Homo sapiens: one gene and its partners. The protein of the gene in region 3 interacts with the protein of the main gene of each other region in a biochemical or structural test. Each region holds a gene or a part of one and is shown on either strand. Other genes may lie near its edges.

What was found.
Region 1: the proteins of ARL3 (region 3) and RP2 form a complex in vitro, tested with the Homo sapiens proteins (2 studies listed by BioGRID).
Region 2: the proteins of ARL3 (region 3) and BSND interact in a biophysical measurement, tested with the Homo sapiens proteins (one study listed by IntAct).
Region 4: the proteins of ARL3 (region 3) and RP1L1 interact in a biophysical measurement, tested with the Homo sapiens proteins (one study listed by IntAct).

Annotation. Positions count from the first base shown.
Region 1 is NC_000023.11:46,839,681-46,847,253, reverse strand, and holds part of RP2 (protein XRP2), read right to left. Parts: intron 1-7,573. UniProt on the Homo sapiens protein: Acts as a GTPase-activating protein (GAP) involved in trafficking between the Golgi and the ciliary membrane.
Region 2 is NC_000001.11:54,994,663-55,002,505, reverse strand, and holds the start of BSND (barttin), read right to left. Parts: upstream 3,574-7,843; 5' UTR 3,320-3,573; coding exon 3,143-3,319; intron 1-3,142.
Region 3 is NC_000010.11:102,703,864-102,711,436, forward strand, and holds part of ARL3 (ADP-ribosylation factor-like protein 3), read right to left. Parts: intron 1,627-7,573; coding exon 1,483-1,626; intron 1-1,482. UniProt on the Homo sapiens protein: Small GTP-binding protein which cycles between an inactive GDP-bound and an active GTP-bound form, and the rate of cycling is regulated by guanine nucleotide exchange factors (GEF) and GTPase-activating proteins (GAP).
Region 4 is NC_000008.11:10,652,144-10,659,228, forward strand, and holds the start of RP1L1 (retinitis pigmentosa 1-like 1 protein), read right to left. Parts: upstream 3,001-7,085; 5' UTR 2,755-3,000; intron 1-2,754. UniProt on the Homo sapiens protein: Required for the differentiation of photoreceptor cells. Plays a role in the organization of outer segment of rod and cone photoreceptors.

The DNA of each region.
Region 1 (7,573 bases), on a different chromosome or scaffold from region 3:
TAAAGAGCTCTGAAAAACTCAATAATAAGAAAACAAATAACCCAATAAAAAAATGGGCAAATGATTTGAATAAACATTTTACCAAAGATATATGGATGGCAAATAAGTACATGAAAAATGCTCAACATTTAGGTAAATACAAGTCATTTGGGAAATGCAAGTTAAACTACAATGAAACATCACTACACACCTATTAGAATGGCTAAACATTTTTTTTTAAAGCTAGGCGAGGTGCAGTAGCTCACAGCTGTAATGCCAGCACTTTGGGAGGCCAAGGTGGGACGATCGCTTGAAGCCAGGAGTTTCAGACCAGCCTGAGCAACACAGCCAGACCTTGTCTCTACAAAAAATAAAAATATTAGCCGAGTGTGGTGGCAGACACATGTAGTGTAGTCCTAGCTACTTGGGAGGCTGAAGTGGGAAGATTGCTGGAGCCCAGGCAGTCCAGGCTGCAGTGAGCCATGATCATGCCACTGTACTCCAACCTGGGAGACTGAGCAGACCCTGTCTCTTAAAAACAAATTAACCTGACAATACCAAGCAAGTGATGTGAGGATGCAGAGCAACTGTATCTCTCATATACTGCTGGTAGGCAAAATGGCATAGCCACTTTGAAAAATAGTTTGGCAGTTTCTTTTTTAAATTTTTAATTAATTTTTTTTTTATAGAGACAGGGTCTTGCTCTGTTGCCCACACTGGAGTGCAGTGGTGCAATCAGAGCTCACTGCAGCTTCAAACTCCTGGGCTCAAGCAATCCTCCTGTCTCAGCCTCCCAAGTAGCTGGGACTACAGGCATATGCCACTCTGCCTGGCTATGTTTATCCATTTTGTAGAGGTGGGGTCTCACTATGTTGCCCAAGCGGGTCTTGAACTCCTGGCCTCAAGCGATCCTTCTGCCTTCACCTCCCAAAGTGCTGTGATTACAGGTGTGAGCCACTGACCTGGCAGTTTTTTGTAAAGTTTAATAAACAATTTCCATATGATCAGCAATCCCACTCATGAGTATTTACCCAAGTGAAATGAAAACTTATGTTCACTCAAAAACCTGTACACAAATATTTATGGTAGCTTTATTCATAATTACCAAAATTGGAAACAACCCAAATGTCCTTTAACTGATGAATGGATAAACAAACTGTGATATATCCATACAACGGAATACCACTCAGCAATTAAAAAGGAACTCCCGGCTGGGTGTGGTGGTTCATGCCTGTAATTCCAGCACTTTGGGAGGCCAAGGTGGGCGGATCACCTGAGCTCAGGAGTGCAAGACCAGCCTGGGCAACGTGTTGAAACCCCATCTCTACCAAAAAGATACAAAAAATTAGCTGAGTATGGTGGCACTCGCCTGTTGTCTCCACTACTTGGGAGGCTGAGATGGGAGATCACTTGAGCCCCGGAGGCTGAGGCTGCAGTGCGCCAAGATTGTGCCACTGCATTCCAGCCTGGGTGACACAGTGAGACCCCATCTCAAAAAAAAAAACTCTTGATACATGCAACAACATGGATAAATCTTAAATGCATTATGGTTAAGTGAAAGAAGCCAGACTCAAAAGGTTACGTATTGTATGATTCCATGTATATGACATTCTCAAAAAGACAAAACTATAGGGATAGAAAACTTATCAGGAGCTGGGAGTGGGGCTGACTACAAAGGAGCAAACTGACTATACAAAGGAAGAACTTTTGGGGGCGATGGAACCATTTTATATCTTGATTGGTGATAGCTCCACAACTGTATTTATTTGTCAAAACTCATAGAACCGTACACTTAACAAGGGTAAATTTTACTGTATATAAATTACACTTCAATTAAAACAAATACTTAAAGTTTAAACATTGTTAAGTCAGCTTCAGGGCTAGATAGCTATGTAGCTGAGAGGTTATTTCACAAATGAAAACATTAGTGCCACATAATTATAGAACTAATAGTGCTGAAATATAAATTCTTAATCTCAATGACTTTGAAACATAATAAGAAAATGAACAGGACAAATAGTTTCTCTCAATAATAATATAAAACTTATGATCTTAGTCAATATACACACCTCCCAGAAGACAGATCCACTATCTTTGCTATTAAATTGTGTTCTGGGCATGCAAAGCTAAAGGGTAGCCTCTGTGACACTATGGTTTGAGTTTTCCTGTGACTTAACCCAAGTGACACCTACATCATCATTGCTACTGTCAATACTGTCAGTAGGCTTTTAGCCTATTTGGAATTTATACAAGTAAAAAATGTACTAAGCTTTTATGAACAGACACTTCTCAAAAGAAGACATTTATGCAAGCCAACAGACACATGAAAAAATATTCATCATCCCTGGCCATCAGAGAAATGCAAATCAAAACCACAGTGAGATAACCATCTCACACCAGTTAGAATGGCGATCATTAAAAAGTCAGGAAACAACAGGTGCTGGAGAGGAGGTGGAGAAATAGGAACACTTTTACACTGTTGGTGAGACTGTAAACTAGTTCAACCATTGTGGAAGACGGTGTGGCGATTCCTCAAGGATCTAGAACTAGAAATACCATTTGACCCAGCCATCCCATTACTGGGTATATACCCAAAGGATTATAAATCATGCTGCTATAAAGACACATGCACATGTATGTTTATTGCGGCACTATTCACAATAGGAAAGACTTGGAACCAACCCAAATGTCCATCAATGATAGACTGGATTAAGAAAATGTGGCACATAAACACCATGGAATACTATGCAGCCATAAAAAAGAATGAGTTCATGTCCTTTGTAGGGACATGGATGAAGCTGGAAACCATAATTCTCAGCAAACTATAGCAAGGACAAAAAACCAAACACTGCATGTTCTCACTCATAGGTGGGAATTGAACAATGAGAACACTTGGACACAGGAAGGGGAACATCACACACCGGGGCCTGTCGTGGGGTTGGGGGAGGGGGGAGGGATAGCATTAGGAGATATACCTAATGTAAATGACAAGTTAATGGGTACAGCACACCAACATGGCACATGCATACATATGTAACAAACCTGCACGTTGTGCATATGTACCCTACAACTTAAAGTATAATAAAAAAATTTTTTTAAATAAAAAAAATGTACTAAGCTTTGTAGAGTACCAGGGTCAAAAATATATTTTTTAAATGATTGTTTTAATAAAAGGGGCTATGAAAAATTCAACTCATATCCTATGTATCTAATGATCTTAACCACGACCTTGCTATTTCAGCTTTCTGATACCTTTTCTTTTTTGATGCTTCATTCTTAAAACTTCTATAAAAATTTCTGAGGCTGGGTGCAGTGGCTCTTGCTTTTAATCCCAGCACTTTGGGAGGCCGAGGTGGGAGGATCAGATGAGACCAGGAGTTCGAGACCAGCCTGGCCAATATGGCAAAACCCTGTCTCTATTAAAAATACAAAAATTACCCTGTATCTTGAGCTTATATAGTATAAGCTCAAGACCAGTATCTTGAGCTTATATACTATTGATGATTCGAGAAACTGAAGTACTACATTTATATTAGCTTACCATTTTGTGAAATATATAACAACAAAATAGAATTATGAAATTTTAGGATTGAAAAGATTCCCCATATCATCTAATCTAATCTGAATCTATTTTTACATCCTATCACATTCCCTTTGTTCATCCAGATTTGCCTGAATGTTTCTAGCAATGCTTACCTCCCCTCATGGGCTGCTCAAAGAATTCAAGAACTGGAAGGGATCTTAGGAAACTGAGGGCTAAAAGCTAAATTAGTTTACCAGTGAGGTGTAGTTAGGTGCAGAATACAAATTAAAATTCCAGCCCCATATACTTTTCACTCTCTATGCTTTTTACCTTTATCAAAATTTTATATGGGTGAAGAAACAACACTCACACATTGCTGGTGGAAATATAAATGGTGCAGGCACTCTAAAAAACTGTTTAGCAGTTCCTCAAAAAGTTAAACATAGGCCAGTCGCGGTGGCTCACGCCTGTAATCCCAGCACTTTGGGAGGCCAAGGTGGGCAGATCACGCAGTCAGGAGATCGAGACCATCCTGGCTAACATGGTGAAACCCCGTCTCTACTAAAAATACAAAAAATTAGCCGGGCGTGGCGGCGGGCGCCTGTAATCTCAGCTGCTGGGGAGGCCGAGACAGGAGAATGGCGTGAACCCGGGAGGCGGAGCTTGCAGTGAGCTGAGATCACACCACTGCACTCCAGCCTGGGCGACAGAGTGAGACTACGTCTCAAAAAAAAAAAAAAAAAAAAGTTAAACATAGAGTTACCATATGACCCAGCAATTCCAAACCTAGATGTGTACACAACAGAAATGAAAACATGTCCAGACAAAAACTTGTATACAAATGTTCATAGCACCATTATCCATAATAGACAAAAAGTAGAAACAACCCAAATGTCCATCAGCTGATGAATAGATAAATAAAATGTGGTATATCCATACAATAGAATAAAGTCTTGATACATGTTACGATATGGACAAACTTCAAAAACATGCTAAGTGAAAGATGCCAGTCACAAAAGGCTAAATATTGTGGCTCCAATGAAGTGAAATGTCCAAAATAGGAACACTTATAGAGACAGAAAATAAGTTTGTGGTTTCCAGGGGCTCGGAGAGACGAGAATGGGGAATGACTACTAATGGGTACAGGGTTTCTTTTTCCAGGGATGAAAATGTTCTAAAATTAGACCATGGTGATAAGCCTGTGAACTTACTAAAAAATACTGAATTATATACTTTATTTTTAAACTAAATTTATTTTAAATTTTTATGGATATATAATAATAGTAGTATGCATTTATGGGGTACATGTGATATTTTCATACAAGCATACAACAATGTAATGATCAAATATGGGTAACTGGGATATCCATTACCTCAAACACTTATCATGTCTTTGTGTTGGGAACATTCCACATTTTCTCTTCTAGCTATTTTGAAATATACAATAAATTATTATCAACAATAGTTGGCTGTGGTGGGTAGTGGGGAGGAGAGGATGAAGAGTGGTTGGTTAATGAGTACAAAAACACAGTTAGACGGCTAGGCACTGTGGCTCATGCCTGTAATCCCAGCACTTTGAGAGGTCGAGGCAGGCAGATTGCCTGCGGCCAGGAGTTTCGAGACCAGCCTGGCCAACATGGTGAAACCTCATCTCTACTAAAAAATACAAAAACTAGCTGGGTGTGGTGGCACGCGCCTATAATCCCAGCTACTTGGGAGGCTGAGGTGAGAGAATCGCTTGAATCCAGGAGGCGGAGCAGTGAGCGGAGATCATACCACTGCATTCCAGCCTGGGCAACAGAGTGAGACTCCATCTCAAAAATATATATACAGTTAGATAGAATGAATTATATACTTTAAATGGGTGAATTGTATGGCATATGAATTATATCTCTAAAAAGCTATTTTTAAAATTAATAAACAAAGAACTAGTTATATCCTTTAAACAACTTTATATAGAGGATTTAAAACCTACTGGCAAATTCTTTGACACTCCTCCCATTGAGAGGTCACCTCCTCTTGGAACTGGGTGGGCATTTGTGACTGCCTCAGCATTACTCCTGCCACATCCAAATTAAGTCTAATTAAGTGACTTAAGAATTCACTTAATAAGCTAGTTAGAAAAAAACCATGCAGCTTCTGCCAGTCTCTCTTAGGATGCTTGCCCTTGGAACCCTGCCATCACACTGTAAGGAAGCCAGGAATACATGGAGAGGCCCCAGCTGAGCTCCCAGCCCAAAGCCAGCATCAACTTGCCAGCCAGCTATGTGGTCAAGCCATCTTGAAAGCTGTCACGGTTGATGCCACATTGAGCAGAGTCAACCCTGCTTAACCTTATGCAAATTAAAGAGTTATGAACAAAATATCTGCCATTATTTTAAACCATTAAGTTTTAGGGTGGTTTGGTACACAGCAATGGGTAACTAGAATACTTTTCATACTTAAAAGAAGGCTAAAAACAGTATCTAGCCTCCTCCTACTTAGTGCAGACACTTCTTTCTAGCAGATTACCACCCTAACTGTCTGACAATTTTGACTAACATGGAGATCAGGTCCTCAACGAAGCCACCCCTTCCACTGATGACCAATCCTGGGAATTATGATCTGCCTTATGTTAAAACCAGTTCTGTCATGCCCAACCTCTGGTTTAAGTTCTTTCCTCAGAGGTGACCATTACTGTCTAAACCTCTTCTTCAGGACAGGCCTTTACCTTACTAAACAGTAGAGAAATCTTTAGCATTGTCCTACTATATAGCTGAGGAACCTGAAGTGCACAAATTGGCTGCTTTACCCAAAGTTACACAATAGATACTCGAATTTCTGGTATAAGATTTTTGTTTAGTATTATTTCTATTGAATATGAGACAAATATAACAGACACATGTGTTGTCCTTACTCAAATCACAATTTTCACACTTAAGCCATAATTGTTTAGAGTTAATCCTCATTTCTATTATCTAGGAGGAAAAGTATGGGCATGAATACTGGAAGATGAAAACTACTTTTCCGTATCACTCTTCCTCACCTCATATGTACTTAAATGTTTCCTGTTTTAACTCCAGAAAGCCAGTAAACTCTTTTAGGGCAGGGATAAGTCTTATAATTTTGAGACTTACTTGGTGTTTGAGTACATACATACTGAATAATTTGCCTACCTATGGGTGGCAGCATACAGATAAGGATAAAAACATTTCTTTTGAAATAATTTAAACACAAGTCTTACAATCCAAAAATATTTCTCATCACATCAGTGTAAGAATTGTAATCTTTTTTCTTTTTCAAAGTCAGTAGCAATAGAAAATGAGCTTCTTACACTGTTGACTACAGTATGTCAGTTGCTATGACAATGCTTAGTCCCCAGACATTCCTTCTAAATGAGACAATTTCTCCCAGCTTCAGTCCCCTAAGACTGACCCAATTACACAACTCAAACCCCAAAACCCAAGGGGTGCCCTTCAATAAAGATACTCTGGGCTGGGAGCGGTGGCTCACGCCTGTAATCCCAGCACTTTGGGAGGCTGAGGCAGGTGGATCACCTGAGGTCAGGAGTTCAGGACTAGCCTGGCCAACAAGGTGAAACCCTGTCTCTACTAAAAATATACAAAAATTAGCCAGGCGTGGTGGTGCACGCCTGTAATTCCAGCTACTCAGGAGGCTGAGGCTGGAGAATCGCTTGAACCCAGGAGGCAGAGGTTGCAGTGAGCCGAGATCGCGCCACTGCATTCCAGCCTGGGCGATGACAGAGCCAGACTCCATCTCAAAAAGAAAACATCAAAAAAAGATACTCTGATTACACAACCTAAGGAAAAATGTAAACACCCTTTTCTAAGCTGCAAGGAAATTTTTCAGGCAACCCATTTTGTTTTTACATGTAAAAGTCTTACAAGTTGAATGGTAATTGTCTGATATAACTTTAAAACTGTATATGCTATAATCCATAACCACATTCCAGAAGCCTAAACTTTTAATATAAATCATTTCTATTAATATGCATGCATCATATCTCATTTATGTTCTCTGGGCTGTATTTGCAATCTGTTCCTTTTAAGGTACAACTGAAATCTTCTAGGA
Region 2 (7,843 bases), on a different chromosome or scaffold from region 3:
ACTGAGCAATCTCCAGAGAGAGGGAGGCCACCAGTCAGGACCCTGGTCCTGGTCTCCAGCACAGCAGGCAGGAGTGAGGAATGGGGGATGCGTGGGCAGAGACCCTGCTCTCCCTGCCACTCCTTTCCCTGCTCACAGCTCCCCTGCCCCATCTTCACTAATGGGCTCAGCACCTCCAACTGTCCCATCCACTAGATTTGCCCTGATCCCTTCTCCTCTCTCATGCCTGAGGCCCAGCTGACCACCAAATCTGACCAGGTCTACTTCAGAAATTCAATAAGATAACCTGGGTGGAAGTGCTGGTGCTATGCCTAGCCACAACGGGTACTCTATGTGAAGTGAACTGTAAATGTCACCTTAGTTCCTACAGCTTTGTGTTTGAATTCTGCATTATTCCAGATGACTGTCAGCTCTCACCAAGACCAGAGAAGAAGCCTCCCCACTGGTATGGCTGCCCCCAGACCTTCCTTCTTCTGGATGTCTTTCTCAAACTGCAAAGCTGGTCGTGTCCCATTAACTAAAGGACAAGCTCCAAATTCCTTACCATGGCATCCCAGGCCCTGAAGAGTTGAGCCCCACTCCCTCGCTACCTTTACCTTCCTCCCCTCTGCCTCTCGTAGCCACAATGGCCCACTTGCCTTATTCTTTTACCACATTGCTTTGATCATGCTACTCTTCTGCCTGGAATGTCTTTCCCCATCTTCTCTGCTTGGTGAACTCTTATCTCACCTACAAAGCCCAGCTCACCTTCTCTGTGAAGCCTGTTTCCTCCCCATCAGGCAGCAAATAGCCTCTCCCACTAGACCTCTAGCCCCTAAAAGACATGGACAGCTTAATGCATGTTGGTATTGGCTACCCCTCACCCCTATATCCTAATTAGCTAATTCTATTCCCTTATATTTATATCTCCCCATTTATCAAAACTTTCCATAGGTCTGGCACAGAGAGCCACGGGGAGGAGGCTGAGGGGAGGACAGGCAGGAGCACTGCAGGCAGCGTTGGCCCAGGCACCAATGAGACCAAGCAGGATCCAGGGAGCTTCGCCTCTAGAGTGTCTCCCTGGTTTATAAGGTGCTTTCCTCCCTTCCCTTATTGGAGTCAATTTGTGCTGGCTCTACCAGCCTGCATCTCTGAAACACACACTCACACACACCTGCACTCATGCAGAGGCCCACCCAGTGCCGCAAATACCAATCCTCAATCCTAAGAACAATGCCTTCACATATGTTCCATGGCAGGTGTGATGCCAGGTCTCCCCCAACACACACACACACACACACACACACACACACACACACACACACGATCCCACTGTGTTCTCCCAATCAGCCGTACAAGGCTCAGAGCTGAGGGGGAGGGACTCTTTCTGCCAAGGTCACAGAAGTGGGACATGAAGGAGCAGGGATTTGAATCTGGGCCTGGAGGTTGCCACAACATGTGCCATTTTCAGCCCACCACGCTGCCTCCACAGCACGTGAACCCATGAATCTATCAACAGTTACTCATTAATACCCAGCAATATTCCCTCCTCCCCTCCCCTCCCCTCTACCGTCACTCCCATCAGCCTACCAACCATCCCAGAGCCAGCTCTATTTAAGAGCGGGGGCAGGAAGGATGCTCCTCTCCACACCTCTGCCATCCCTCTGCTGTCCCCCAGGGTCCAGCCTCCTCACTGGGAGAAGGATTATAATAGCAGTGGTGACATGAGTGGCTTTGGCCCCAAGGACTTCTCCCAGTGACCTCTGCTCAAGGAATTGCACAGACAGAGGCAAGTTGACTGTAAACTGCCTGCTAAATGACTACAAACCAGCCCAGACCGCTCCAGCACTGAACAGAATGACAGCCCAGGGTTGGCCCGTGGAGGGGGCAGGGCTGGGGAGAGCCGGCCCAGGCCCCAGGGAGCCATCCCCCTTCTTCCCTGAAACCCTGAGCACAGCCACCCAGGTGGGAGGAGAGGAGGTGTGGGGGTTGCTGAGGACTGCCTGGACCTGGAGCCCTAGATATTAGGTCCAGCAGGGCCCCCAGATATACCCCCTTTCCCACCCCCCCCTCCTAACTCACACAGTGTACAAATGAGGAAACTGAGGCTCAGAGAGGAAAGGGGCTTGAGCAAAGTCTCCCAGGCAGTAAGAGACAGAGCCCAAGTTAGAGTCCCTATTTCCCTCCTTTTCTCCCTGGGTCTGTACCTGACCAGCTGTGTGACCTTGGAAGTCACCCAGCCTCTCTAGGCATTGAAGATTCGCAACTCCTGGCATTTCCATTCCACAGAGCTGTTGGGAGGATCAGTATGGGTAACAGTGGTAGCCCTTCATCTATAAATAACACCTTACAGTTTACAAAATATTCCTATATCTTATCTCTTCTCTGATCTTTATAATGACCCTGTGAAGCTCTGTGGAAAATAGGGGCAGGGATCTCATTTGCAGATGAAAAAAATGAGGCTCAGAAAGACAAAGGTCATAGAGAGTTTGGAACAGGACTTGAACTAGAACTCAGGACTCCCAAACCAGTGCTCTTCCCATCACTAAATTACACATAAGGCTGAGAATACATGAAGACTCTAAAGGATACTGCCCAGTGCATGCCACCAAGGTTAGACCTGACCTACCCTGGAGCTCTCAGTCGCTCTGGGACCCAGAGGTAGAAGACCCAAGGTGAAGGGTGACGTGTAAGTCACACGCATCTGAGCTCCAAACCTTGCTCGTTAGCTGTGCAGCCTCTCTTTCTGGACCTCAGAAAGGCTCAGAAGGTGGAACTACAGAAAGCACCAAAAGGCTTAGGATGAGGGCTGAACTGCACCCTGAACGCAGGAGTGCCTGGCAGGGGGTCAGCGCTCATTAGCTTTTGTTTCAAGCACATGGTGTGTTGTGTTTGCTGTGTCTATACCATAGCTTCCGGCTCAGGGCTCCAGATCCAGGGGCCTTCTGATCAACCCTTAGGCTAAGGGATGGATGGATGGATGGATGGATGGATGGATGGATGGATGGGACAGACGCTCAGGAGAGCAGAGAGAAGACCGAGTCAAAATGAGAAGAATGAAAAGACAACTAAAGGATAGGGGGTGAGGCATGGCATACAGGCACAGTGTCCAGCCCTCCTGGCCCCAGCTGACCTGGCCCCACCCAGCCCCACTACCACCTACCTTGGGGTAGCACTGGCACATGCTCCAGATGATGCCCCCGATCACCATGACGCTGCCCATGGCATAGAAGGTGCCGTAGACCTGGGGCCGATCATGGCTCATGAGGAACGTACCGAGGGCCAGCAGGAAAAGCCCCAGCACAATGAAGCCGATCCGGAAGGTCTTCTCGTCAGCCATGGCTGCCTGGCCAGTCCCTGGCCTGCACACCCCCGGGAGAGGGGGTGGCTGTAGTTCAGCCTAAACACCGAGACAGGCTTACACAGGGAGAGAAGACACTGAAATCGCTGCAACTCAAGGCTTCAAGGGAGAGCAAGATCCCTTTCAATCCCGCTCCAGTCCCTGGGCCCACCAGTTCAACAGGGCTGGAGGCGGCTCGCTTCAACGGACCCACACCCAGCCACCTTTACTCCTTGCCCTCTCACCTTCCCTCTGGGCCCGGCTGGCCTGGAGTGTGTGTGTGAATCTGAGCGAGGGAGCACACAGGGGAGGGAGAGTGGGAGGTTACCGGGGCTGGGCCCCAGCCAAGGCTTTGACATCACCTCATTTGCCTACTGTGGGGTTGAGCTGGGTGGACAGGCAGCCTCACACCTTCCAGCTCTAGAAAACAGGGTACAGTTCTGCAGCTGAGAGCTGTTAGAATGCTATTGGAGGATTCCAGGATCCCACAGGCTGGCATTTCAGAATCCTGAAGAATTCTACACTCTTCAAGGACATGTGCCTATCCAGGGTTCAGGAATAATGGCCCATATGTACTGGCTGGTGACTATGTGCAGGGCACCATTCTAAACATGTTACAGCTATTAACTCATTGAAGGGAACCCAGTGAAGCAGCTACTACTATCCCCACTTTACAGAGGACCCTCGGGCACAGACAAGTAACTTGCCCAAGGTCACACAGCTAAAGATGGCAGAGCTAGTGGGATGTGAAGCCAGAGGCCGTGGGCCTAGCCACGGCGTGATACTTCTTAACTGCAGCTTGAGGGTGAAAAGCGTGGCTCTGGTGGCAAGGCAGGCTGCCTGGGTTTGGATTCTGGCTCCTCTACTGTGGGGCAGTGTGGTCATGATCAGGTTACCTCAGTTTCCTCCTCTGTAAAATGGGAATAATAATGTACCTCCCAGATTTGGTGCTGTCTCCAGGCCTGGCCTCCTTGGGTTCCTCCATCCCCTTCACATTCACACGCTATGCACCACCCAGTTGGGCTTTCAATGAACTGCTCCCCACCCACCCCTAAGGCTCTCGGAATTAGTGCCCCTGCAGGGTGTGAGTGACTGACAGTCACTTCCTCCATTTCCTTGCAGCCTGATCTAGGAAGATGCCTTCCTAAGAATAACACTAATGAGGCATTTTAGTCCTAGGGACAGGCTGATGGAAGAAATCAGATTCCTTTACAGGATTACAGGAAAATGAGGACCATCGGTCTCTACAAGAGAATGTTCACTTGGCGTTTACATGGGGTTAAATCGCCGATGCAGGATAAAAGGCTTTCAATGGGCTCCCTGACTTGCTGGGCTTGGGGATTTCCTGTTGGCGGTCATCACCTTCTCCCCTCCTGCCAGCAGGGCTGCCCTTGTTCCCTAACCCCACACCTGTGCTCACAGCTGCCCCTCTAACTAGACGTCCTTCTCATAGGCCCTTTTTCCAACAGGGGTTTCTCCTTCCTCACACCCACCATCGCCAGCCCTCAGAGTCCAGGTGCACTTGACAGTTCGCAGAGGAGGTCCTGGAGGGAGCTCAGGGGCCCTGGCTGAGCGATGGCTGAGGGGCAGGAAAGGGCTGAGTTATCAGGTCATGTCCAGGTCTGGTTCTCAGGGTGAGCTCAGGCAGGTGGCTCTGCTCCGGGCTAGAGTTTTGTCAACTGCAGATTGGGGATAGGTATTAGGCCACCTCCCAGGTTTTGTACAGGGAAGGGACATAAGGGGAGTGGGAAAAGGCAAGTACTTTGTAATCTGTGACTATTAACAAAGCAGGACCTTCCACGGAAACATTATTATCATCATCTACTACAGGCTCAGAGAAGGGAAAGGGCGAGTGCCGTGTTACCTAGCCGGTGCCCCTCCCTGGAAAGGAGACGGAGGCCCAGAGGGACCTCAGCCCGTCTGGCCCTGGAGCCCAGGCGGGTGGCGGGAACGGTCTCCGCAGCCGCGGTCCTGCAGGGCCTCGTGGGCCGCCCGGCGCTGAGCAAGGCGCTTCCCCCGGGGTCAGCGGCTGGGCTCGGACCCGGTGATGAGCAGTCGCGGCGGGGAGGGGAGTCATCGCCCGCATTTCACAGGCGAGGAAACCGAGCCTGCGGAGTGGCAGGGGCTGGCCAAGGTCTCCCTCGGCTGAGTCGGCGGCTGAGCGGTGACCGCACCTCCCCTCCCAGCCCCATGTAGATGGATCTGCTCTTCAGCCATTCCTCAGAGGCCTCGCGGTCACCCGGGCAGTCTTCTTCTCTCGCGCCTTTTCTTTCCTCTACACGGCCCAGCCTTCTTCGCCCCTTTTCTCTCTGAGTCGCTTCTCCTCTTAAAAAAAAAAAAAAAAAATAAGGTAACTACGAGTAAGAAATTCAGTAGCAAGTAGGAAACAGGTAGGAACTCTGGAAAATGGGTCTCACCTAAGCTCTTCCACAGAGTCGGGCTAGGGATTAAGTAAGGACATGTGTGTAGGGTGCGCTGGAAATGTTCGGGTGCAGCAGCTCCCCCTCCTCTCCTGTAGTCCCCCCGCCCTCCCGCCTTACTTCACCTCCCCCGGGCCACCTGGGGGACTGGGGAGCAGAGCGCGCGGAGTCTTTCATCGTCCAGCAGAGGGCGCGCTAACCCCAGCTTTCGGGATCCTTGCGAGCGGGCTCCCATGACACCCCGAGGCAGGGAGGGAAAGAGCACGCCCATTTGACAGAGGTAAGCATCGAGGTCCACGCAGGCAAGGCGAGCGACCCAACGTGGCAGAACCTGGGAACAGACAGTAGAGCTAGGAGTCCACCCAGGTCCCCAGGCAGTCTCTGGTTGAGCCCCTACTGTGTGGGGGACACTGAGCTGTTAGGAACTCGTACACACAGGGCTTCAGGGATGGATGGCGCTCAGTCCTAACTTCTGGGGCACCTTCTGGGGCACAATACGGTAATGGCTTTGCGATGCGTGCGAGGTCCCGAATGTGCACAAAGCAGAGAGAGGAACAGATGGGGATGAGGGGTGAAGGGACAGATTCACAGAAGGGACACTTGAGAAGGCAGTTGGAGTTCTGACGGGGCAGGAGAAACCTCCTAGGCACAGAGGCCAGCATGTGCAAAGGCACTGAGGTACGTACCCGCCGACACACAGCTGGCGAGAAAGCTCTAAGTGCTGTGCACAGGCTGCCTGCATTGCATCTTCCTCCCCAGGCCTGCCCCTCCCATAACCCCATCCTTCCGGTTAGCAAGCCCCGTCACCAACCTCACCTCCTCCATCACACCCACATCCTATGGGCTCTACCTCCAACATGTAAGAATCCAATCACTTCTCACCCCTGACGACTGCTCATCACCGGGTCTGAGCCTCCACCATCTCTTTCTCTCCCTAACTGGTCTCTACTTCCATCCTTGACCTCTGAAGTGTCTTTGCAGCCCCAATACTGGGTCAGATCATGTCACTCTTCTGCACGGAGCCTTGGAATGGCTCCCCATCTCATCAGAGTAAAAGCCAAATGCTTTAAGATGACCTGAAAGGCTCTGGATAATTGGCCCGCGCTGCCTGCATATCAACCCTCTGAGCTTGCCTCCCGCCACGCCCCCTCTCACTCACCCATTCCACCACCCTGGCCCCATGCTGTTCCTGGAACACGCATGCATCCCAGGGCCTCCGCACCTGCTGTTCCTTCTGCCTGGAGTGCTGTTCTTCCTGTAGCTGCATGGCTCCCTCCCTTACCTTCTTCAGGACTTTGCCCAAATGTCGCCTTCACAGTGAGGGCTTCCCTGATCCTGCTATGAAACTGCAGAATCGCCTCCCCAGGGGTTCCCTGTATTCTTTTCTCAATGTTTCTCCATAGTGCTCACAGCCACCTATCATACTATATGCATGATTTATCTTGTCTCTTGTCTGTCTGTCTCCTCAACTAGAACTCAAGCCCCCACAGGGTGGGGACTTTGTTTTGAGCACTGCTCTATCCCCAGGGGCTAGGACAGGGTAGGCTCTGGATGCGTGTGTGAATAGAGGGATGGAATCTGCATGCCTGGGAGAGAGAGGCCGGAGAGGAAATGCAGGCAGGAAACCTGCTGGGGCTAAGGTATCTGACATTTTTCACAGAGGTTATGCATGGGAAAGATGAGAACCAGATTTTAATTTTTCAATTAGAGAGAGAAAGATCCCAGTGAGCAGCAATGAGCCACCGAGGGGGTAGCACAGGGATTTCTGACTGGGGTGGGCTGATTTAAGGTGGAGAGCTCCAGGGGCAGGGGTCACCAAGCCCACCCAGCGGGTAACAGAAGCCCGGGAGGGGCCCAAGGAAAGCACGGGGGAGGTCTGAGCTCTGAGGATCCCTGTCATCTGAGACTCTGGTGGCCAGCACAAGATGAGGTCTGAATAGGGGGTGAAGAAACTGGATGGTCGGGCCCAGGAGGAAAGAAACCAGCAAGCAAACTGGTGCCTCCTGGGGGCTGCAGAGTGGCAGAGCTGGCCCTCACGTGGCTCCATGGTCAGGCACTCTGCCAGTGGACACAAGGAACCCCCATTCACAGCGAGGCCACTTTG
Region 3 (7,573 bases):
AATTGGCCGGGCAAGGTGGTTCACGCCTGTAATCCTAGCACTTTGGGAGGCCGAGGCAGGTGGACTGCCTGAGCTCAGGAGTTCGAGACCAGCCTGGGCAACAACGGTGAAACCCTGTCTCTACTAAAATACAACAAATTAGCCAGGCGTGGTGGCGTGCACCTGTAGTCCCAGCTACTTGGGAGGCTGAGGCAGGAGAATCACTTGAACCCAGGAGGCGCAGGTTGCAGTGAGCTGAGATTGCACTGCTGCATTCCAGCCTGGGAAACAGAACGAGACTCTGTCTCCAAAAAAAAAAAAAAAAAAAAAAAGGCAGGTAATTTTTTTTTCTTTTAAAAATTGATACATATTTGTATTTATTAAGTCTGAAAAGTACACGGTAAAATATTAACCATGGTTTTTCTCAGAGTTTTCTCCTTTATACTTTCTCTGTGTTTTCTACATGCACTACTTTCATAATCAGAGAAGATAAAGCTATTTTTTAAAAAAGAATAGGCTGGGTGTGGTGGCTCACACCTGTAATCCCAGCACTTTGGGAGGCTGGGGTGGGTGGATCATTGAGGTCTGGAGTTTGAGACCAGCCTGGCCAACATGGCAAAACCCTGGCTCTACAAAAAAATACAAAAATTAGCGGGCCATGGCGGTGTGCGCCTGTAATCCCAGCTACTAGGGAGGCTGAGGTCCAAGAATCGCTTGAACCTGGGAGGCGGAGGTTGCAGTGAGCCAAGATTGCACTACCACACTTCAGCCTGTGTGACAAAGCAAGACTGTGTCTCAAAAAATAAATAATTTAAAGAAATAAAATAAAAATAAAAAGAATATAGGTACTCAGATCTGCTGGATTTGTCTATATACACACAAACACACACATGTGTATATATGTATACATATATTTTAAATTGTAACATAACACGTACAATATGCAGCTGCTGAGGACATGTGCGGGTGGGGAAGGTGGGGCAGAGACGGAAGAGGGGTGCATGTGCTGAAAGGTGCTGTGTGGAGGCTGAAGCCCAGTGGGATGCAGATGCTGCAGTGGGGTGGCCTGATGAAGTGGGTACTGTGAAGTGTGTCTGCGTACACATTTTAACGTTATAACATAAAACGTACCATTTCAGCCATTTTAAAGTGTACAGTTCCATGGCATTAAATACATTCACACTGTGGGCCGTTACCCACAGAACTCTTTCCATCTTGCAAAACTGACTCACTGTACCCGTTAAACAATAACTCCCCATTCCCCCTCCCCAGCTCCAGTAACCACCATTCTGCATTCTGTCTCTATGAATCTGACTACTCTAAATACCTCATGAGAATGGAATCTCTTACATATTTTTGAAATCTGGTTATCTTTAGATTGTATAGACTTTTCTCAGAGACAAAACTTGGAAGTGGACAAAACTGTATTTCCCATTTTGTCTTTCACATTGCTATTATCGTCTTCCTGTGTCACACGGCATCTGGAGCCAAGGCAGTGCTCACCTGTGTAGGTGTGATGTGGCTGATGTCTTCAGATGCAAGCTGCTTCAGAAGAGTGGTCTTGCCAGCATTATCCAAGCCCAGGAGAAGTATTCTCACCTCCTGGTCTGGTGCACTTTTCAACTTGCGCAAAATTGAGAGCAAGCCCTTCAACAACCACAAAGGAGACAGATTACTCTGGGGGCACTGACTGTGATATTAACTGGATATGAGAATAACTTCTCCTTGAAAAAAGTTATTGGTTATGGAGAGCTTATGTTATTATTTTTCATTCTAATGCCACTTATTCCATTTGCTTCCTCTTTCCAAGTTTCGGTAGAAGTGCTACAGTAAATTCAGCAACTTAATAAGTAGCAGGGCTTATTTCTGCTCCTCCAATCAATCTAGCTTAGCAGTCACCCCAAATCTCCTGGGAGTGTGAACTCTACCCCATCTGTGTTCCTAAAGCCCTTTACATACACTTAGAGCAGAACATTCATCATATCAAACTAGGTAACTGATGTTTGTATTTTTCTCCTTTACTAAAGTTTCTCGTGGTAAGGGCTATACTTGTCCCATAATGCCTGGCACTTATCAAACAGACACTAGATAACACTTGTGGAATTAAATAGGATGACACACCCAAGTTAACACACGATTTTAAGGTGTTATACAAAAATATATAAAAAGGCTATATAAAATTATAGTTGGGCTTCCTGTTAATGATTTTATCTATTTCATCATTTCACATTGCATGCCTGTATCAAAACATCTCATGTACCCTATAAATATATAACACCATGGACCCACAAAAATTAAAAGGAAAAAATTTTTAAAAAAGATTTTATCGCCGGGCACGGTGGCTCACATCTGTAATCCCAGCACTTTGGGAGGCCAAGGTGGGCGGATCACGAGGTCAGGAGATCGAGACCATCCTGGCTAACACGGTGAAACCCTGTCTCTACAAAAAATATAAAAAATTAGTCGGGCGTGGTGGCAGGCGCTTTGTAGTCCCACCTACTCGAAATGCTGAGGCAGGAGAATCGCTTGAACCTGGGAGGCGGAGGTTGCAGTGAGCCGATATTGCACACTGCACTCCAGCCTGGGTGACAGAGCAAGACTCCGTCTCAAAAAAAAAGATTTTATCTATTTCAGCACATCTTCAAGACTTCTTCATTCAAAATGTTCTACTATCATCTTTCACAAGACCCTACAGGATAGGTGCATGGTATAGATAATCTGTGTTTTTTAGATGAAAAATTTGGTACAACAGAGAAGTTAAGAAATCATAAAAGGCATCCATGAAGCAAAACAAAACAAAACAAAACAAAAACCCACCAAAATTAACCAAGGAATTTTTTACTGTTAATCTAATATTTCCCTCTGTCACCCAGGCTGGAGTGCAGTGGTGCAATCTCGGCTCAACTACAACCTCTGTCTCCTGGGTTCAAGCAATTCTTGTGCCTCAGCCTCCAGAGTAGCTGGTATTACAGGCATGTGCCACCATGCCTAGCTAATTTTTATATTTTTAGTAGAGATGGGGTTTCGCCATGTTAGCCAGGCTGGTCTTGAACTCCTGGCCTCCAGCGATCAGCCCACCTTGGCCTCCCAAAGTGCTGGGATTACAGGCCATGAGCCACCTCTCCTGGCCATTATTTATTATTTTTTATGGATAGAAATATAAAGCATGTTGCTGGGCATGGTGGCTCACGCCTATAATCCCAGCACTTTGGGAGGCCAAGGCAGGAGGGCTGCTTGAGCCCAGGAGTTCAAGACCAGCCCTGGCAACATAGTGAGACCCTGTCCCTACAAAAAATAAAAAACAAATAAGCCAGGCATGGTGGCGCAGGCCTGTGGTCCCAGCTACTCAGGAAGCTGAGGTGAGAGAATTGCTAGAGCCTGGGAGGTCGAGATTGCAGTAAGCTGTATTTGTACCACTGCACTCCAGCCTGGGTGACAGAGTGAGACTCTGTCTCAAAAAGAAAAAAAAAGAAAAAAGAAAAAGAAAACAAAGAAAAAATAAATAAACCATGTTGATTTTTAGTTAAGAACATAAGAACATCTTTATAGGAAAGTTATTTGTTCTGTGCTATAGCTGATAATCTTGTTCTAACGACACATGGCTAGAACAAGAGTCAAAGAATCCCAGAGTTTAAAGGGCATATAATTTAATCTCCCAGCCCAAGAAGAAATTCCTTCAAACTGAGTCTTAGAATTATGCAAAATGGTTGTATTTGTTATTCACATTGTACCAGGCAATAATTCAAACCAGTTTGTTCACTAAGATCAAAGGATACTTCTGAGAAATAATTCTCAACAACTGCATCTTTGGACAATCATACGCAAATATGCATAATTATTAAGAATTCCTTTCTGCCTCAGAGACTCTTTGTTTACCACTTCTAGTACTGTATCTGTACTGACTTGCTAAGGACCACATTAACCTTTCTATGCCTCAATTTTTTCCAGCAGTAAGATGGAAGGTTTAGTCTAAGCTAGACAAATTCTATGCCAAAAGATTTGGGGGACAGAGATTGAATAGATTGGAAACAAACAGAAGTCTGGCTTTTTAAAAGGCCAGACTTTTTTTTCCTTTTTCTTTTTTTTGGGGGGACAGGGTCTTCCTCTGTGGCCTAGGCTGGAATGTAGTGGCGTGAACACGGCTAACTGCAGCTTCGACTCCCTGGGCTCAAGCGATCCTCCCACCTCAGCCTCTCCAGTAGCTGGGACTACCGGCTCACACCACCACGCCCCACTAAGTTTTGTATTTTTTGTAGAGATGGGGTTTTGCCATGTTGCCCAGGCTGGTCTTGAACTCCTAAGCTCAAGCGATCCACCCAAAGGCAAGATTTTTTTTTTTGCTGTTTTTATCTCATCTGGTCTTGAATACTTTGACAGCATTCCTTCTTAAAACTATATTTACAAGAAGTCTCCCTGGTTTCTATTAGCTATATTGCAATCACTCATTTATAATATCACCTTTCAGAAAAGTAAAAATTAAAATTCTGAGATCCTTAGGGGACTGGTGACATAAAAAGGCTAAGAGGAAAACCCATTTTACTACTCATCCTGAGTTCCTGATTGTAAGTGAAAAGAAGAGGTCTCATTACCTCTTAAAATAAATTATAAAACATCTGGAATTTATCAAATTAGTACATTAAATGACACAGGCAAAGTTCTTCTCATGCATTTTCTGCTTAGTGCAGAAATTATGAAGGAAGATCTGTTTCCTATTTTAAAAAAAATTTTTTTTGGCCGGGTGTGGTGGCTCACACCTGTAATTCCAGCACTTTGGGAGGCCGAGGTGGGTGGATCACTTGAGGTCAGGAGTTCGAGACCAGCCTGGCCAACATGGCGAAATCCCGTATCTACTAAAAATACAAAATTAGCCGGGTATGGTGGCACATGCCTGTAATCCCAGCTACTTGGGAAGCTGAGGCAGGAGAATTGCTTAAACCCAGGAGGTAGAGGTTGCAGTGAGCCAAGATCATGCCTCTGCACTCCAGCCTGGACAACAAAAGTGAAACTCCATCTCAAAACAAAAACAAAAAATAAAACCATATATTATATATATATATATATATATATTTTTTTTTTTTTTGAGACAAGGTCTCACTCCTAATGCCAGGCTGGAGTACAGTGGTGAAATCATGGTTCACTACAGCTTCAGCCTCCCAGGCTCAGGTGATCCTTCCACCTCAGCCTCCGGAGTAGCTGGGACTATAGATGTGTACAACCGCACCCAGCTAATTTTGTGTATTTTTAGTAGAGACAGGGTTTCACTATGTTGCCCAAGCTAGTCTCAAACTCCTGGCCTTAGGCAATCTGCCCGTGACGGCCTCCCAAAGTGCTGGGATTACAAGAGTGAGCCACTGCACCCGGCCTATAAAATATTTTCAAAGTTTAAAATTAATGTTTTGGGTTTTTCCTCATGTGTCTCTTTTAAAGAAGTTACTAAAAATACTGTTTTTTTTTTCAGGCAGAGACTTGCTCCACACTCATTACATTTGATATTAAAGAATTAAGAGAAAAACAAGGCCAGGCACAGTGGTTCACACCTGTAATACCAGTGCTTTGGGAGGCTGAGGCAGGAGGATAGCTCAAGGCCAGGAATTCAAGATCAGCCTGGGCAACAAACACGAGACACATATCCCTACCAAAAAAAAAAAAAAAAAATTATCCAGGTGTGGTGGTGTGCACCTGCGGTTCCAGCTACTCAGGAGGCTGAGACAGAAGGATGGCTTGAGCCCAAGAGTTTGAGGCTGCAGTGAACTATGGTCGGGCCACTGCATTATGGGCTAGGTGACAGAGCAAGACTCTGTCTCAAAAAAAAAAAAAAAAAAAAAGAGACAAACATAATGTTTATTCACCTTAAAAGGAGAGGAGCAAAGCACAGATAAGAAAGAAAAAGAAATCATTCTAACTATAAGGCTGAGTGCAGTGGCTCATGCCTGTAATCCCAGCACTTCGGGAGGCTGAGGCTGGCGGATCATTTGAGGCCAGGAGTTTGAGACCAACCTGGCCAACATGGTGAAACCCTGCCTCTACTAAAAATACAAAAAATTGGCCAGGCATGGTGGTGGGCACCTATATTCCCAGCTACTTGGGAGGCTGAGGCAGGAGAATCGCTTGAACCTGCGAGGTGGAGGTTGCAGTGAGCCGAGATCACACCAGTGTACTCCAGCCTGGGCCACAGAGCTAGACTGTTTCAAAAAAAAAAAAAATTCTAACTATAGATAAACTTTATTAACCTAATGGTGTAGAATACAGTGCTTCTACATTTCTAATGAGTAATTTTCCTTATTAGGAAATAATAACTTCAGATACTTCACCTTTGAGTGAAATTACAGAGAAATGCAAAGTTCAGCTAATGTTTTCTTCCAGCAAAATGATAAATGGCATTTCAAGCATGGTCTAGGGAAGACAAGTGCAAATATAATACAGCATCATATTAATCCAACTACTGAGGATGGGATCACAGGATTATCAGGGTTTGCTAAATAGGGAAGAGGATATTTATAGAGATCAGGGTTCTGCCTGAAAGGTACAAAGTAAGCTGATTTAAGAGGCTGGATGAAAGAGACCAGAATAAGTCTATTCTGTGCATCTATACATATATGCCCATATTTTATTTTAACTGTCAAATGAAGGGAGACAGCGATTAGAAGTTAAATTTATCATAGGGCTGAGTTTTGCAGTATAAATACAATGACATTAATTTTTAAAGTGCATTTTTTGGCCAAAATATCCATTCACGCAATTATCATTAAACACCCTTAATGTGCCCCAAGTACAACAGTGAGCAAAACGGGCATGATCTCTATGTAGGATTTATATTCCTGTGACATTAAATAAAACAATTTAAGAAACATGAACTTCAGTTAAAAGTATATTGTGTGTTACCAGCATGTGTGTATACAAGTTATCTACACCCTGGTGGGCAGAAGTGGTCTGACTCAACCACAAAACATTTAAACAAACTTTTCTACAGTCAAATCATGAATAGATGTGCTATGGACTACAGACGTTTTATCTGCCTCGAAATCAGCTTAAACTACTGGCAGAGGCATGGTGCCCTGACCTAAAACAATACAAACTAGGTCATTCAAAGAAACCAGAGTGGTGGAGGGAGAAGGAATGCGTTGGTATATGGAAAATATATGTGGTTGTGAGGACCAGCTAAAATTTGAATTCTGAAATTACGAAGCCAACAGTCAAGTACATACGGTCCCCATAACTAGCTTAAATATAACTGACTTCCATTTGTTTTTACGTCTTTCAACTGAACTCCTATCAGCTTAAAGCTCAAAATTGAGAACTTAATCCAAACTGTGTCTTCTTTCTCATCACCCTCTCCTAAATAAATACAAACAATGTTTCCTAAGGAACAAAGTCTGAGCATCTCCTCAGGAAGAGTGGGTTCCCACTTCACCAGAGTCCTAATGAAATGAATGTTATGGGCTTTAGAATTTCACAGACTTGTATTCAGCTTCTGTGTGTGTGTGTGTGTGTGTGTATATATATATATATATGTATGTATATGTATCTGTATATATATATGTATATATATGTATGTGTGTGTGTGTTTTTATATATATATATGTATATACATAAC
Region 4 (7,085 bases), on a different chromosome or scaffold from region 3:
TGACACAGCTGTCTAACAACACACTTCTCAAAATGCATTCCCATCATGAAGCCACGCATGACTCCACTATAAATAAAAGACTGCCCTTCAGGGTTGAAGGAAATGATTTTAGGATCAAGAAGCAGGGACTGTAATATGATACACGTCACAGAGTGGACTCATAGAACTTAGGGCCCCAGCTAACAGTAAGGCTGACAATATAGATATCCATCCAGAAGGGTTGGGGGCCTCCTCAGAAACTGATCCATCATGAGTGGTGGAGAGAAAGCAGATTATACATGTAGATCTCCTGCTATGCACCAGACACTTGACGAATGCGATGTCATCTAACTCTAATATTCCTTCCTGCTGGGTATAACCAGCCCCGCAGTATCTTAAAGAATCTGGGGCTTGGAAAGCTTCAATGACTCGCCCAAGGTTCACGTAGCTAGTGAGTGGTGAAATCACTCTTTGAACGAAAGTCTTGTTTCCTCCAAATTCAATGCTTTTGGCTACTTCATTTTACAATTGATCCTTCTGTATTGAAGAAAAAAAAAAACCTTTCAAAGTAGCCCACATCTGAACACCAAGATTCCATCTGCAGCCTGAGGCTGGCCGGCTCTCCACTCTGAGCCCACGTCCCCCCTGATTCCCTATCTCCTCCCGTCCTCTGTGCGTACCTGCCCTTCCTGGAGGTCATCATGCTCACTTTTGTAACTATCACAGTGCCTAGTGGAGCTCTGAACAGAGCAGGTGCCTAGCTAATGTTACCTAAAGTATTTTCAGACATTAATGTTGGAGGAAGGCTCGGTCTTTGGGGATCGATGACATCCCAGTGGGTGCCCAGTGCCTCAGGCCACTGTTAGACAAATCAACTCCGGGTCTGAGGCAGGGTGAAAACTCTTTCTGTCCCTGTGTGGCTGGGTTGTATCAGCCCAGCACCTCCAGCAAGCCACAGAGTGGTTGCTCAAGAGATATTGTTGACAGATTGATTTACTGACTAATTTATATGACATACTTATTCAATGACACAGGTCTCTTGGAGGGAGTTCACAGGAAAGTAACCAAGATGATTAAAGGATTGGAAAATGCGTTTTACAGGGAAAGGTTACAGGGACGGGTTATTTAACTTGGAGCTGAGAAAGCTGTTGAACACTGCATGCACAGGCCATCGAGCTGGAAAGAACCGAAGGCTTGTTTAGTCCAGACCCCTTGATTTCCACCTAAGAGACCAAAACCCAGGAGCAGAGGAGCAGAGAACTATGTTGCCAGCCACAGTCTACACTTCGTGACTGCAGGTCCAGGGATCCCTCCAAAACACCAGGTGTCTCCCTCCAACACACACACACACACACATACACACACACACACGTGCACTCGTAAACTAACACATGCATCACATGCACACACACGTCACATGCACACCCACCTGTATACACATGCACACTCATGTGCACACACCCACACCCACATCACATGTGCGCACACGCACCTGTACAAACATACACACTCATGTGCACACCCACACACGCATACACACACACACACACATTAAACACAGAGGTTCAGAAAACGGCAACCAGCTCTCCTCGTCCCCTCCTGTTAGAAGAGAGCAGCAGGCCTGTCTGAGGTCACTATAATTTGTAAGAGGATTTCTGGAAGATGTTTATATAACCGAGAGGGTAAATAAAGAACGATGTGGAGTGCACATCTTGAAGGTGTGTTCTCACTGTCTGAGATGCATTTCTGGGCTGTGCACCTCCCCCAGGGAAGGAGTCCTGGTGCCCTCCCGCGACCTCCTCCAAGCTTCCACCCTGAGGCAGTGTCTTTGCTCCTTTTCCCTTCACTGTGCAGCAGCTGGGGAGGGAGCCTGGGGCAGGGGGATGAGCTGGCTGTGGGGCATGGTCCCATGGGGAAGTACAGATCTGAGGCACAGGGACAGTTAGCTGCAGCCGCGCTGGACCTCGTCTGAGGTCTGGGCCATGGATCTCTGCTCACTTGCCGTTGGAACCACTGATCTCCCCTAAGCCTCGTTTTCTCCACCAGAAAACTGGGACGGGAGACTGGCACTTGACTGGCCGCTGGGGGGATGTCATTACCATAAAGAGAGCAGACCCCAGTTTGATTTTGTGGCCCTTCCATGACTTCATCTGTCCGGGCCTCAGTCTCTTCTGCACAAATGGGCCCAGGATGCCAGCCTTGAAGCTGGGTAGAGAAAATTCAATGACCTCATTGATAGGGACCTTCTATGCCCCTTCCTTACCACTCTCTCTATTTGCCCTGGGTCTTCAGAGATTCTTGAAGTCTCGGTCCTCTAAGAAGCAAATTGGACACCTCCCCAGAATCTGCTCCCACCCCAGCTGACCTCACCCTGCAGGAATCAAGGGGCAGCTGCCCACCTCTCCCTCCTCTCCAAGAGCCCCAAGAAATCCTCAGGAGGGATTTCTCCCTCTCTGACTCCAGCGACTGCATTGCTCACCCTCCAGGTCCAGGTGGGAGAAACAGACAGGCTGTGATACTAACATCCTGTAAATCAACGAGCAGAAACCTGAAACTCCACTGTGTCGTGTTTAAACATGATCTGCTCCCAAACAGCCCAGCAGGCCTTGCAGAAGAGAACCGATCCTGCGTCACCGCAAGCATCCTGTTCAAGACATCCCTCCCAGGCTCTCAGGCTGAAACGCCTCCCCACTTGCTGTGACTTCCCAGAGCCAAGACTCTCTGCCCCTCAGGTGGCTGGCTGACCCTGCGGGACATAGGCAGCTGCTGACTCACCGTCCTCCAGGGAGCACAAGGGCATGGCTCAGCCCCTAAGCCTCAGGGGGACGTCCTTTGGAGGAAAGTCAGGCCAGGGGGAACACCGCCTCCTTCCCTGCCAGTGGCTCAGTCCCTCTGGGCAGCAGGGCTGGCCACCCTCCTCCGGACAGTCCTCGGGGCCACTCTCCTTGGCCTGAGAGCCTGAGGCCCCAGTCCCTTGGGCAGGAGCCCAGCCTCCTGAGCTCCAACAGATGGTCCATTTGCACAGAGACCTGCCACCCTGGCCACTCTCCCCAGAGGGAGCTGGATTATGGCAAACCCAAGAGGATTAGTGCGGGAGGCCATCTGCAGAGAGGATAATTAGCTTAATGGGGTTACACGGATTGTTCCTGGCCCTCTGCCCAAGGGTACACTTGTCAAGACTGTTAAACACAGCCTGGGGGCTTGCAGGGGAGCCCTCTGAGCACCAGCAGCTCCCACCCTGTTCCAGTTGTCTGGGTGGGCCATGACAGGCCTGCAGGATTGGGGGAGCGCCCCGCCCACCGTGGTACTGGGCAGGAACACCAGGTCCTGAGTGGGGGACACCAGGGGAAAGGTGGGGAACTGTTTTCCATCTCCCGGAAGAAAGCAGAGAAGGAAACATGATGGTATTGCATCGGGCAGGAGGCAGCACGTGGAGGCCCGAAAGAAGCAGCTGAGAAGTCAACCCGTCCTCAGCCATTTTCTCCACCAAAGCCGAACAGCAGCTTCCCCTCGAAGGGTCCTCCTTCTTCATTTCAGACAAAATGGATCATTTTGGTTTTAGGTTGGCAGTGCCTATGGGGAGCCACAGGAGCCTGGAATGTTCAAATCAACTCTCTCGGAGGGCTGGAAATTTGTTTTTTGTTTGTTTAGAATACACTTGTTTAAGTGCAGGGCTGCCTGGAGGCAGGGGACAAACTGTGACCTCCAGCCTGGCAGTTTCCTCCCTGGAAATTAACTAGGTGGAAGGGCAGCCTGTGGAAGTCATGGGGACTCAGGGTGTGTTGCCATCAAGAGGCGAAGATTTAGTGTATGTGTAGTCCGCATTGAACTGATCAGTTCCACAAATGAAATCACTTAAGCCTTGCTTCTGGCTGACAGACACAGCAGGTCAGTCCCAGTGATCAGATGTGTGTGGATGTTGGCTCTGGGGTGCAGATCACACTGTAGGTGAAAGATAGGCTTGCCCAGGTAATTTTAATAAGTTAGCATAAGCATCGTCAAACACAGTAGTGATCAGCCAAAGTCCAGATGCTTCATGCAGAGCACAGAATACGAGTAGCGCAAAGGCATTTCAGATGATGTACGTTTGGTTCACATGTAGTGAGCACCTACCTGCAAAGTGTACAGCAGTCATTGCTATTCAGTAAATGCCAGTTCATCCAAATCCATGAATAAGCACAGAGTTGCAATAAAACATTTCACTAGCTTCTTTTCCCCAGGGGAATGTGGGGAAACATTGTAAGTAAAGGGAAAATATAATTTGTTCAATGTCCACACTTATAAAGGAGAGTATACTTAGTGGCCTCAAAGTGGGGTTACCGCATATTTTATCAGCTAAACCAAGGCACTTTGGGGAGTGAAACAAGACATTATCAATTTCATCTGGAAGACAGGAGTAAACCGCAACTGTCCCCAGGCAATCAGCACCCAGGGCTCCCTTACCTCGAAGAATGACCAAGTGTAACATCTCTGATTTTGTGAGTTGCATAGTCAAATAGCCTTTGTACTACAGAAAACCTACTTCAATGATTCAAAGCTGCAAGACGGTAGCTAGAACTTTTGAACCTGAGCCTCAGAGGTCTTTGTACCAACCAACAAGAGATTCATGGCTCAATGTTTCCCAAATACCTACTATGTTCCACCTGCCCTCTTAGCCACTACTGAATATGCAAAGAAACCTCAGAGAAGCCAACATCAAATTGTAGCCACAAAAGATAAGCCAGTTAAAGTAAAATACCAATCCTAGACTTTGACAACCCTTCCAAGTGGCTGAAAGCAGAATATGCAAAGTGACTATTATTGACAGTAAGTGCTATAAATATTCCAAAGCTAGAAAGACTATCATGATGGGAAGGAGGACATCACTCCTGAAGGATGAAAAGGAGAGGGCATTTTGATCCAGATGAAGCAGAATATCTGTGCATGAATTTATACCCTCTGCTCCGATTTCATAGCCATGAGGGACCAAATGAAACAAAGGAACAATAAAAAGATATAACTAGGGTTTCCCCCTACACTCCCCAAAAGGCAAACATCTCTATTGCCCAAAATTAGAAGAAAAACACAAAGCAGTGAGTAGGACTGAGACCACAGGCTGGCTGGGCTCCTCCACACCTTTAAGACACAGAAGCTGTAAAAGGGAATGCTGACCCCTGTGTGGGGGCATGGCTTTATGATACTAGATCTCTGCTGGTGGAGCAGGGGTTGCCCAAGGATCACGTGGCAATGGTTGAAGACATTTTTGGTTGTGTCAGCTGGAGGGGGGAGTGCTACTAACATCCAGTGGATAGAGGCCAGGGACACTGCTAAATACCCTGCAATACACAGGACAGCCCTCTCCATGACAAAGAATTACCCAGCCCCAAATGTCAGCAGTGATGAGATTGAGAAACCCTGGTTTATAGGAAGCCATTGGTGTAATACACACAAAGTATCTGAAATACATTTGTGCTACTCATATTCTGGGCTCTGCATGAAGAAACAGGACTTCAGCTGATAACTGCTGGGTTTGATAACCTTTATTCTAACTTATAAAAATTATTTGGTTTATAAGAAGACATTGGTATAATAAGTAAGAGGGAACAAAAAGATTCAGCCGCATGGCTGGTGACTGGGTCTAGAATATCCCCCAAAATATTTGCAGAGGAAGAACTCCAAAAATGTCACTAGGAGATTCGGTTCTGACTAGGAAACTGCATGAGGGCCACCACAAAACTACTACCCAGGGAGGGTAGCAGATAGAGAGGGAGAGAAAACAGAACAAAAGCAAACCCGCTACTCTAGGTGAGCCTGAAACCAACATTTAAAATCACATGACAAATATGATGTACAGAAAGACAGTCAACAAAGTCAGCAATGAGAACATGAATTCACTCCAAATGAAATTAATTTCATGGGATGGTCTGATAAAGACTTAAAATGTGCCTTAGCTGGAGCTAGAGGGGTACACGGGAGAGCTCGGAAGGAGAGAGGCTTCATAATTACCATATAGCAGCCACTGTCTAGAGTTTCAAAAACCCTAGGAGGTAGGTATTATTATACCACTCCCGATATGAGGAAACCGAGTCATGGAAATGAGAACTAATTTCCCAGGGTCATTTGGCTGGTATGTGGCAGAGCCAGAATTTGGGTCTAGGCAGTTTGGCATTGGCCTCCATGCATCTCATCAATACACTGTGCTTTGGGTAGAGAGAACAGCATAGCCCCAAGAAGGGATTTTATTAAAGATATAAGAAAGAGAATGAAGCATCAAAAAGGGAATGGAGAGAGAAGAGTCAAGCAAAGCAGTGTGAAAACAGGCTAATTGTGTTCGCAGGGTGCAGGAATGGTAATCCAGCCATGGCTGCTGAGACACCCAGGAGAATAAAAGGGAAATGGCACCAGTTCTTGGCAGTGCAGGGAGCCCTGGTGGCCTTCAAGAGAGCTGTTCAGTCGAGAGGAGAGGGCAGAAGAGAGAGAGACTATAGGTGAGAAGGTGGTGGGGAAATAGAGGCAGGAATGACAAACCTTTTGTTTGGGAAGTTTGCCAGTGCAAGGCAGGAAAGAAACAAGGTGGTAGCCAGAGCAGGCAGCAGGAAGTGGCCGGTGATGGGGAGAGACTGAGGATGCAGGAGGGAGGGGACAACGCAGGTCCTAAAAAGGTGAGAGGAGGAACCACAGCTTGTTGCTGGGGCCTGGTTCCTGGGACCGGTATGTAAACCCAACCACGGGGCATTTATGCACTGAGTAAGAACTACAGCGAGCTCCACATCACCTGGACACAGCCCAGGACAGTGCAGCCTCTGGACCGTCACTTCCTTAGCTGTTCTCAAGGGAATTCTGCCACCGCAGGCCTTCCTAGGGATGGGCTGGTTTTCCACAAGCTGCCGCTGCCGGGCCATCATTCTTACACGTGGGCACAGCCCCTCCTTCCTTCAAAGGGCATGCCCACTGTCAGCTTCCACCACCATTGGCAGCTCCTTGCTGCTGTCGTCCTTGGACCTCATGGACTCGCTCCCTCGTTCATGAGGAGTTTGGCACCTGGCCATGCAGAATCTCCCTGTCCACTTGAGAAATGCCACTGTTCCCTGATGGCCCTATGTCTGTGTGGCACCCATCCCACAACC